Linked DNA regions of Homo sapiens. The protein of the gene in region 3 binds, or shares a complex with, the protein of the main gene of each other region. Each region holds a gene or a part of one and is shown on either strand. Other genes may lie near its edges. The genes, in order: THOC7, THOC1 and THOC5.

Region 1 (3,749 bases), on a different chromosome or scaffold from region 3:
GGGGAAGGTTTTCATTTTTCATATTGTGCATTTCTTCTTGAATTTACTGACATGTAGTACTTTTTTTATGAAGTAGTAACAGTGGTTAACTGGGTGGTAAACTTATTTATCATTCTCAGGTACTTCATTTTCTCTGTATTAAAAATTCTACTCCGTTACTGAATAAAGCTATGATATGTTAACAACAACAAAGAAAACTGGCTTGATTTGACCTACTTTAAATGAACAAGAAGAGAGACTAAGGCCATGTAAAAAAAATGTTCATGCAGATTCCTGTAAGATTTATCGTTAGACCACCACAGCTCATGTTATTAAGATGAATCACACATATTAGCCCATTGTGTTACATTCCTTATGGTAAAATAACACCTGGTCCCTCCTTTCAAAAAGCTCAAAGCCATTAAAACAATTTTTAAGGTCAACAATATTAAGGAGACACATAAAAGGTGGGTGGAAGGAACAATAAGATGGTTTGATTCCTCCATGTAGATATTAACCTCTCCTAAGATACTTCTGACTGGTCTACATAAATTGCTGATGCCAAGGTAAATTACGTGCACCAAAATTAAATTTAAAATTTTAAAAGGAAAATAAATGCAAAACATCATGTTGAGGTCCTTTGTCTTTTCTCTCTATTTAAATGTTTAGAGTAGTATAGTGCTAATAAAGTCAAGGTGAAATGTCCATCTTGCTTTGAAAAACCAATTATCTTGGCTAAAGAAACATCATTTCATAGTTGAACTGCAGCAGTTATCCCTGTGTTGGGGCCACAGAAGATGGAAGAAAGTGGGCAAATGCAATGGCACTAATGAAAAAAAAACCCAAAAACAAAAGAACCCTGTGCCCACAAATGTCTAATTAACATTGGATCAGCAATTGAAATAGGAATAACAGCAGCAGCAAACACTTGCACAGCATTTATACCACCCTAGTTGGTGACCACACAACCCATTTGTTTCTTTTCACTCTGAAAAGTGTCCTGGTTTACACAATAAATTAAATGGTCACTCAACTTCAAAGTGCTTTACATATATTATCATGTTTCATCCTTGAAACAACTCTACAAAGTGTGTACTATTATCTTCCTTTCACAGATGAGTTACTACTCACCTCTGCATTCACAGAAAAATATATACAATTACATTATTAGAAAGTCATAATGCAGCTCCATTATTCTGTCATATTATTCGTAGGCATATTAAAAACCATTATTTCACATTGCAACAAGTACATATTCATGCATTACATTTTTCTAAGTTAAAAAAAAAAGCTACCGTCAAAACCAGCAAGCTTTATTAAATAGAATGTAGAGCCACATTCCACCCCAACCCCTTTCTCCATCTCTCATCTGTTGCTCTGGCATATCAATATATCACCTAATGTTCTCTGTAGTGCAAAAAGTGCTTCTGAAATGATTTCTATCAGGGTACTAACAATATTTAGCATCCTTTAAATTAACACATACAAAATACAGTTAACATAGTTTAAATTAACAGTGACAACATCCACACTGTTTTTCAGCTAGCCAGACTGCTAGAGTTGGCAACAAGGGAAGGAGAGAAAATGGCTTTGTCACAAACTACCTGTGTGACTGCAAGTCACTAACTTCCAAAGACCTCTACTTTTTCACTTATAACATGACAGTAGTGGTGAAAATATCCAGTCTAGTAGCTATAGCTACTCTAAAGCAGGGCAGTTCCTCAAACTGAGTGCAGGAAATAAAGGGCTGCTTCTTCAAGAGCTCCCAGTCCAACTGGATACGCAGACCCAGAGGAATGGATTACATGAAGGGACAGTGATACAGGCACATCAAATTTGTAAAAGACATTGGCTCTTATGTAAGCTCCATGGACAGGTACTGGTACTCCTCCAAGAGCTTTCCAGGAGGATGAATGAGATATCAAGAGCATCCACTTCTATCTTCCACACTAACATCGCTCTAATCCAAGCCCACATTTCTCTCATCTGGAATATTTTGCATTGGACTCCCTGTTTCCATTCTTGCCTTCCTAGAATCCATTTTTTATGCAACTCAGAATGATCTAAAAGATGAATTGGATCACTAACTCTCCTGCTTACAATCCTCCTATCATTTCTAAATGCCCACAAAGGACAATTCAGTCTCCTTTCCAAAGCCTGCAAGGCTCCTCCTGAGCTCCCTTTTACCTCCTTTTGCATCGTACTCCTCTTGGCCCACCTGGATGCAGTCCTGTCCCTAGATCCAGCCCAGTGGCTTTCCTTATTTCCTCTAAAGGGTGCAGAGCTTGTTTTCACCTCGGGCCTTTGCACTAGTTGTTGTCTCTATCTGGAATACTTTCCTGGGCTCTTCATGTGGTTGAACCTGTCAGGTATCACTGCCCTCCCCCATTACTCTCTGTCCTCATTCCATCAAGTTCATTCTCAGAACTTAATTACATTCCTTTTCAGAAATTATCTTATTTACTTATTTGATTGCACACTATGGCTTCTTTCCCCAAAGCAGGGGCCAGGGCCCTCCTCTGTCTAGTTCACTGCAAAGTAGCCAGGACCTCGCATTGTGCCTAGAAGGTATGCAATAAATACTTGTTGACGGATCACACATACCACTCATTTCAGCTTGATTTTTTCAAAAGCTCAGCTGACAAAAACCATGTTTATAGAGGATTGTCTGAAGAAGTTGTAGTTTGTCTTTCCTCTATGGTCTAGATATTCAATCAAAAAACCCTGATTTGAATCAAGCCAGATCAGCAGAGCTACCCACTACCCACCTAAACCACATTGTCCATTGATTTTATTTATTTATTTTTAGACAGGGTCTAGCACTGTTGACAGGCTGGAGTGCAGTGGTGCAATCATGGCTCGTTGCAACCTCAAACTCCTGGGCTCAAGTGATCCTCCTGCCTCAGCCTCCTGAGTAGCTGGGACTACCTACAGGTGTGTTCCACTCCACCTGGCTAATTTAAGAAAATTTTTAGTAGAGATGAGTAGCTGAGACTACAGGTGCACACCACCACACACGCCTGGCTAATTTGAAAAATTCTGTAGTATAGATCATGTCTTGCTGTGTTGCTTAGGATGGTCGCAAACTCCTGGGCTCACGTGATCCTCCTGCCTTAGCATCCCAAAGTGCTAAGATTGATTACAGGTGTGAGCTACCACACCCAGCCTCTACTGGCTTTAGAATGTCTTTCTAAATTGTGATTTAGCCTTCTTTTACCTAGCAAGGGATGTGCTACAAAACAGCTCTATGATCTTCAGTGCTGAAAAGAGGTTAAGGATATGACACTGGCTTTCATTTATAAAGACCTCAATGATAAACTTTTCCTCTAGTTCAAATCAGAAAAAAAAAGTGCTTTTCCTGGGCATCTAAGATTGCCTTCTCTCATGAACACTAGATCACAGAGCAGACGAGGTCCTGCCTCTCAGAATGGCCTACTGGAGAAACAGGTCACTTACAGCTTGGTTAATTAATGTACTAGACTTTATCCTCCTGCATTTTGAGGATCACCCCACTTCTGACTTCCCTTTATTTTTCCTAATCTCAATGTTCTTTTTGTCTTGTTTTCTAATCCGTTTAATTTTTATATTTTCTCATTACAGTGAACTGCCTTAAATGTTTTCTAGCATAAGGCATATAAATAACGTATTAAGGGTGACAGCAGCAATATGCATAAAATAATATGGCTAGTAGGCAGAAGGTCAACTACTTCTAGGAAAGAAAAGAGGGGATTTTTGAGGTGGGTCTTGAGGAATAAGTGGAGTGTCACCTG
Region 2 (3,749 bases), on a different chromosome or scaffold from region 3:
GGCTGGGAAGCATGCCTCCAGCCAAGACCACATACAGACACTTCAGAGGAGGAGTTGGAGTAGGAACTTTATGCTTAACTGGTTGGCTAAACATACATATTCAACAAGTTAGAGGAGCGGCTATGAATATTCATGAAAGTGGTCTTGACACATGCATATTAAACAAATATGCATGTTTAACAGACAATCCATGTTCACTTTGGGGTGGAGACTTAACATTTAAATGTATTTACAGTTTGGTCCTATACATCAAAATATCTTTTCAGGAAGTTACGTAAGCATGCAATCACTACAAATTGGCCAGAACAAGTCCATGGTCAGTGACCTTCTTATCAGGAGAAAGTAACTGAAATCAATAAAAGCTGTAGTTACGGCTGGTGGGAGAGGGTTGTTAGTGTCTGGTGGTCGATGAACTGCAAATTGTTTTAATACTGTGAGGCCAGCGCTTGTTTAGCTGCTAAAGAAAAACCTTGAAGCATAGTGAGAACATAGTTTATTTTTCAAGCGTAGGGATGCATGACTTTTAACCCTTGCTTGGCATGGGCTTAGGTCCTGTTTATACTTTGGTATCTTATTGCCATGGAGTCAATTCCGTCAGTCCTATCATCTCCGTTTTTTTTTTTGAAACAGAGTTTCACTCTTGTCGCCCAGGCTGGAGTGCAATGGCACGATCTCCGCTCACTGCAACCTCCGCCTGCCGGGTTCAAACCATTCTCCTGCCTCGGCCTCCTGAGTAGCTGGGATTACAGGTGCGTGCCACCACGCCCGGCTAATTTTTGTATTTTTAGTAGAGACAGCGTTTCACCATGTTTGCCATACCTCAGGTGATCCACTCCTGACCTCAGGTGACCCACCTGCTTCGGCGTCCCAAAGTGCTGGGATTACAGGCGTAAGCCACCGCGCCTGGCCTCTATTTTAACTTTATGGCCAGTCAGCTATCTCCTCTAAATCACAAAAGGGAGAGGGTATAACCAGGTCCGTCTGACCTCCCATCCCGTTATGACTGGGAACTCAGTTGTTAAGATTTTGCTGGTGTCCCCTTGGCCTCACGGGGGTCTGTTCAGTTGTTGGGGGGCTTAGGATTTTAAATTTACAGACTTCGAAGAAGGGAACAAGATACACGTGTGAGGGAATAAGAGGAAGTTACCCGAGTCTGAGTCAGTGCTTCCTTCTCCACCGTGTAACTCCAACTTAGAGTTACTGCCACTCGGCTTCTATCGGCCACGTCTCTCCTGGGAAGGCAGGCAAGGGACGAAATGGAGGGAGACAAGGTTTTCGCTAGGGAAGCCTCGGCCCAGGACGCAGCGCCACCCGTTTTCCAATCAGCGCCGGGCACTGCATTCCTCCTAGGTCTCTTTCTTTCAGTAGAGACCTTTTAATAATAAATACTACTTACATTGCTTTACAGTTCACACTTGCGGTCATTATTTCAGTGGAGCTTTTCAACAGCTCTGTGAGACAGGTATTATTTCTATTTCGGAGCAGAGAGAACAGCGCCCTTGAGCCACAGGGCTCATACATCCGGAGCCTATCACCACTCCGCATCTTAAGCTCCCGGGATGACCGCGGACTGGCGGCCCAGGACCACTGCTCCAGCTGTTTCCCCAGGTAATCCACCTGCCTTGGGTTACCTTTTAGCGCGGCCCAGTTAGCCGCAACCAGCCACCATTTACCCGCTTTCCCCAAACCAGGAAAACCACAGAAACGCATGTGCGCGGCCAGTCTCTTCCACGCCCGGGAACGCAGAGCTTACAGACCAAGGCCGCCCAAGTCCCCTCACCCCAAAGGCTACCCAAGAACCCCGAGTAGGCTGTTTGGCTGACTCAGGCGCCCAACGCCCACCCGAACTGAGTCGCTAGGGAAACTCCCAACTGCCAGCTCGCCCGACCGGTGTTCACAGGCCACTCTAGCCGGGCTCAGAGAGACCGCAGTCTCGTTGCTCCTGGCTTGACGTCATCGGCAGGCGCCGCAGCGCAGTGGCGGGCACGCGCAGCCGAGAAGATGTCTCCGACGCCGCCGCTCTTCAGTTTGCCCGAAGCGCGGACGCGGTTTACGGTGAGCTGTAGAGGGGAGGGTGCAGGCCTGACCCGGCGCTATGCTTTGTCCTCTTCTCCCTGAAATTACTCGAATTTTGCCCTGGGGTAAAGTGAGACAGAGGTGTGTCCGCCTCAGCGTCCGCTCCGGGCCCCGTCGGAGGTTGAGGGGTAGGGAAAGACGCACTACCCGCCTCTTCTTTGTGGGCTGGGCCGTCCGCCTCCGCCCACCCTCCAGCGGGTCCCCGGACTGCGTGCTGGGCGCCTCGGCTCCCCGCTTGGAGTGCCCACCTGCAGACTACTGCTGGTTGGGTCCATCCTCTCAGCTCGTTTAGTGGGGCAGGTGTCTCGAGAAGGGGAAGGGGAGCTGCTGAAGGGGGAGGGTGGGAGTGGTTTCAGTCCAAAGACCTGGCTCCCGCCCTAGCCTTCTGAGCTACCAAGTGCTTGTTCCCGCCGTCTCTTCACCACCCCTTAACCCACCGTGTCTAACTCCTAAGCGATCGATGAGATCCTAAGCGGGAAAAGGCAGATAGATCACCTTGGGAAGGGTAACCAGATGCTATTTTATTCTTGCTCAATGTGGAAGGGTGGTTTTGAGCATTTGGGAAACACTTGACAGATCACTTTCTCATTTAACTATTAGAGTAACACTGTGAAGTAGGCTAAGTTGGTTATTCCTGGTACATGAGGTAGAAGCTGACACCCCCCAAAAAGTTGTGACTTCAGTGGTTTTTCTGACTTTAGACACTCTGTTCTTTTTATGTTGCTCGTCACAGCAACGTAAGTATGAAGAACACTTTTAAGTTGCCTGACTCTATTCGTCTCTAGCATTTGCACCAACATTTCTCAGATATTCGGCTGTGTTTTGGTAGTTATAGGGATGCCAGGATGAAAATTGTGTGAAAGAAAAATTCATCCTTTGTAGTAAGTAGTTTTCTTGTTTGCAGGGTTATATATATATATATATACATATATATACGTATACGTATAATATATATATACACACACACACAGTGTGAGGTTTTTTTTAAATGGATTATATTTTGTGTATGTCATCATAATCATTTTCTTTGTGTGCGTTTTGCTGCAATCTCTGGTGCTTTGAAAGCCTGCTAAGAGTAACTGTTAGGACTATCCAAGATCATATTGGCGGCCGGGCGCAGTGGCTCACGCCTGTAAATGCAGTACTTCGGGAGGCCGAGGCGGGCGGATCACCTGAGGTCAAGAGTTCAAGGCCAGCCTGGCCAACATGGCAAAGCCCCGTCTCTACTAAAAATACGAAAATTAGCCAGGCGTGGTGGTGGGCGCTGTAATCCCATCTACTTGGGAGGCTGAGGCAGGAGAATCGCTTGAACCCGGACAGCGGAGGTTGCAGTGAGCCAAGATCATGCCAGTGCACAACACCTGGGCAACAGAGGGAGACTCCATCTCAAAAAAAAAAAAAAAAATCATACTAGCCCTGAAAAGGACCATGAAATTGGAGATCATCTAGTTCAGTGTTTCTCAAGCTTCTTGTGAAATGCAGATTCTTGTTCAGTAAGTGTGGAAGGGAGCCTGAGATTTTGCATTTCTACCAGCTTCCTAGGTGATGCCACTGTAGCTGCTGCTGGTAGTAAAAATCTACAAAAACCCTCTTATTTAACTGGTGACGAAAATGAAGCACAAAGAGATAAAGGAACAGGCCCCAAATTACTCAGCCTGTTAGTGGCAGAGCAA
Region 3 (3,528 bases):
CGAGGACCTCTGAGCTAGAGAGTACCTGCCTTTGGAATTCAAAGGACTGATGTGGACTGAGGGTAGCGGTGGTGATTTAACAGCCACCAAAGGTACCATTCTCTTCTCCTTGCTAGGCTCAGGTTTCTTTTCTTTTTCTGAATGGGGACTCACTATATTACACAGGCTGGTCTTGAACTCCTGGGCTCAAGCAATCCTCCTGCCTCAGCCTTCTGAATGGCTTGGATTATAGGCATGAGCCACCACGCCCAGCAAGGATCAGGTTTTCATCCGTAAAATGAACGGCCCTGCTAGGGGCAGGAATTTATTACTTAGCTCTTACTCTTAAAATCCTTATCCCTGGGATACTCAGTGGTCGGCAGAGAGACCTGGAGGAATAGCTTTTATACTGGAGGTCTGCATTATCCATGGAAAATCAGTAAAAGTCCACTTAGGGGGAATATGCTTATGATGGGAACCAAGCTTAACAGCATGTTGTGGGGGGATAAAGTTTCATCAGGACAATCACAAAAAATAAAATGTGTTTCCTCTTGGAGTTAGCAAACTATATCTGCAACTATGTAATAATTCTCAAATATTTTTACATTTCTACATCTTTTTTTTTTTTTCCAAGACGGAGTCTTGCTCTGTTGTCCAGATGGTGCAGTGGCACCATCTCGGCTCAGTGCAACCTCCGCCTCGGGGATTCAAGCAATTCTCCTGCCTCAGCCTCCCGAGTGGCTGGGATTACAGGCGCGCACCACCATGCCCAGCTAATTTTTGTATTTTTAGTAGAGACGGGGTTTCACCATGTTGGCCAGGCTGGTCTTGAACTCCTGATCTCAGGTGATCCGCCCACCAGCCTCCCAAAGTACTGATATTAAAGGCGTAAGCCACTGTGCCCAGCCCATCTTATTTTTTAAAATGAAGAATGGAGTACTGATGGTGGGGTCAAGATACACTTTTTGACAAAACTGTCCAAGAATAGTCTATGCCATCCTTTACTTTGACTTGCAGGAGTATTACAAAGGATGTAATTTTATGAACATTTTAAAGGTTGTTACCTATCTTCCCAAGACTTCTCTTAATCAAATAATTATATTTTGAGGCACTTTTGTCATTACCTTAAAGACTCTACTCAGGCCGGGTGTGGTGGCTCATGCCTATAATCCTAGCACTTTGGGAGGCCGAGGTGGGAGGATCATTTGAGCCCAGGAGTTTGAGACCAGCCTGGGAAAAATAGTGGGATCCCGCCTCTACAAAAAATTTAAAAATTAGCCAGAAATGGTGGCACACACCTGTGGTCCCAGCTACTTGGGAGGCTGAGGCAGGAGGATCACTTGAACCCAGGAGAGGTTGAGGCGGCAGTGAGCTGTGTTCGTGCCACTGCACTCCAGCCTGGACAACAGAGCAAGACCCTGTCTCAATAAAAAAAAAATATTCTCCTCAAATGTTACCTGGTCTCACTGTCCTGTATCTCTGTATGTGATTGATTCTCCAACACCACTCTCGCCATCTCCATGAAATCCTGTAAGACTTAGAATTACTCTCTGTGAAGTACAGTTGATCTCTGAACAATAGTTTGGACTCTGTGGGTCTATTATATGCAGATTTCTTTTTTTAAAATTTTTTAGAGATAGGGACTCGCATTGTTTCCCAGGCTGGAGTACAGTACAGGCACGATGAATAGCTCACTGCTACCTTGAACTCCTGGACTCCAGTCATCCGCCCACCTCAGCCTTCTGAGTAACTGGGACTATTGGTGCATACCACCACACCTGGCTGATTTTTAAATTTTTTGTAGATACAGGGTCTCTCACTACGTTGCCCAGGCTGGACCTGAACTCCTGGCCTCAAGGGATCCTCCCGCCTTAGCTTTCCAAAGTACTAGGATTACAGTCATGAGTCCCTGCACAGATTTTGTTCAATAAAAATAACAGTGGTGCCTGCCTCCCCCTCCACCTCCCCCACTTTTTCTGCCTCTGCCATCCCTGAGACACCAAGACCAACCCCTCCTCTTCCTTAGACTATTCAACCCTGAGACAGTATGTGAAGACCTTTATGGTGATCCACTTCTACTTAATAGTAGATATATATTTTCTTCCTTATGGCTTTCTTATTTATTTATTTTTGAGACGGAGTCTCACTCTCGCCCAAGCCGGAGCGCAGGAGCGTGATCTTGGCTTACTGCAACCTCTGCCTCATGGGTTCAAGTAATTCTGCCTCAGCCTCCTGAGTAACTGGGACTACAGGCATGCGCCACCACGCTTGGCTAATTTCCATGTTTTTAGTAGAGACAGGGTTTCACCATGTCGGCCAGGCTGGTCTCAAACTCCTGACCTCAAGTGATCCACCCGCCTTGGCCTCCCAAAGTGCTGGGATTACAGACGTGAGCCACTGCACTCAGGCCCCCTTGTGACTTTCCTTATAACATTTTCTTTTCTCTAGTTTACTGTATTGTAAGAATACAGTGTATAAGATACAAAATATATACTGAAAATATGTACTGACTATGTTAGCAGTAAGTAACTACTAATAGCATACTACTGGTCAACAGCAGGCTATTAGTTAAGTTTTTAGGGAGTCAAAAGTTATACACGGATTTTTCAACTGTGCAGGGCAGGGGGTGTTGGTGCCCCTAACCCCTGAGTTGTTCAAGGATCAACTGAGTTTGTCTTCTGTTTGCACTGCACTGTCAGACATTTATAACATCCAACGATCAGAGACAATTTGTCCATCGGCAACCCTGACAGGACTAATGGGAAGAGCGGGTGGGGAGGGAAGAGTTTTGCTTTTTGTGCTCTGCTGCCTTTGGCTTCTCCTACCACCTCTTAACAGCAGGAACTTGGGATAATAAATACAAGATCATGAGGACCTCACCCCGCAAAGCACAAATAGGGTGTGCGTAGACAAGAGGTGAGCATCTCTCTGCAGAATTGGAATCTTTTTCCACTCTGCTTTTATTGGCTGCTGAGAAAAAGTCTCTCTACAAATGCTTTTTCACACTGTGTCACAGCTCCCACCTGCCCTTCCAGACTGCAAAGCCACCTTGCCAGGAACCACAGACAAAGGCCACTGGTCAGGTGACGCTTTTTAATTGGCTGGTGTCTTTGGAGAATATCAAGAGTCACATGTGGGCCAGAGCAGAAAGCAGAAGCCCAGTGCTCAGGGTGAGGCCTTGGGGGAAACAACGGTCTGCGCGGGAGATCAGCGATGGCTGAAGAATCCCTGAGGATGGTTGTATTTAAATGGCTTCATCCTGCTAGGACCCCTAGAGAAATAGGAGAACGGAGTTGTTAATAACACACCTTCTAGGCTGATAAAATAAATTATGGTTCATTCACACAAGGGAAAAAGAAGAGGCAGAGTTACATGACACAGAATGTTGTTGAGAAAAGCATACGGCAGAACAACATATAAGGTGCGATACTATTTTTGTAAAAATGTCTTTTTGTGCTTGCAAATGAGTGAACACAAACTTGGAAAGGCCCTCACTGACAGTGGCACTTCGGGGACATAGCTTTAGGCACCCTCACTTTTTAGGATTGT

Evidence for each region.
Region 1: the proteins of THOC5 (region 3) and THOC7 are in contact, whole or in part, in a cryo-EM structure (PDB 7APK), measured with the Homo sapiens proteins. Residues at the interface, in NP_001002877.1 of Homo sapiens: Pro48, Asp51, Tyr52, Tyr55, Cys59, Leu62, Gln63, Met66, Ala67, Gln70, Phe95, Lys99, Leu101, Asn102, Ala105, His106, Arg108, Leu109, Gly112, Arg113, Gln115, Thr116, Ala119, Lys120, Val123, Tyr126, His127, Leu130, Leu133, Glu136; in NP_079351.2 of Homo sapiens: Ala21, Asp23, Ile27, Leu30, Val31, Phe34, Tyr50, Met53, Leu54, Leu57, Cys60, Glu61, Met64, Gly65, Thr67, Leu68, Val70, Tyr71, Asn74, Met78, Tyr81, Ile84, Tyr85, Ile88, Glu89, Ser91, Ile92, Ala95, His96, Lys98.
Region 2: the proteins of THOC5 (region 3) and THOC1 are in contact, whole or in part, in a cryo-EM structure (PDB 7APK), measured with the Homo sapiens proteins. Residues at the interface, in NP_001002877.1 of Homo sapiens: Tyr52, Arg113, Lys120, Asp124, His127, Leu128, Gln131, Asn132, Leu134, Tyr135, Glu136, Met138, His139, Thr145, Lys146, Glu149; in NP_005122.2 of Homo sapiens: Glu60, Arg145, Arg146, Leu147, Ser148, Ser150, Gln151, Lys285, Met286, Leu289, Val296, Tyr297, Phe298, Leu302, Ser304, Leu307, Leu310, Gln311, Ser313, Asp314.

The regions. Positions count from the first base shown.
Region 1 is NC_000003.12:63,857,203-63,860,951, forward strand, and holds part of THOC7 (THO complex subunit 7), read right to left. Parts: exon of another isoform or gene 3,443-3,749; intron 1-3,442. UniProt on the Homo sapiens protein: Component of the THO subcomplex of the TREX complex which is thought to couple mRNA transcription, processing and nuclear export, and which specifically associates with spliced mRNA and not with unspliced pre-mRNA.
Region 2 is NC_000018.10:266,272-270,020, reverse strand, and holds the start of THOC1 (THO complex subunit 1), read left to right. Parts: upstream 1-1,973; 5' UTR 1,974-2,001; coding exon 2,002-2,055; intron 2,056-3,749. UniProt on the Homo sapiens protein: Component of the THO subcomplex of the TREX complex which is thought to couple mRNA transcription, processing and nuclear export, and which specifically associates with spliced mRNA and not with unspliced pre-mRNA.
Region 3 is NC_000022.11:29,505,271-29,508,798, forward strand, and holds the end of THOC5 (THO complex subunit 5), read right to left. Parts: intron 3,251-3,528; coding exon 3,187-3,250; 3' UTR 609-3,186; downstream 1-608. UniProt on the Homo sapiens protein: Component of the THO subcomplex of the TREX complex which is thought to couple mRNA transcription, processing and nuclear export, and which specifically associates with spliced mRNA and not with unspliced pre-mRNA.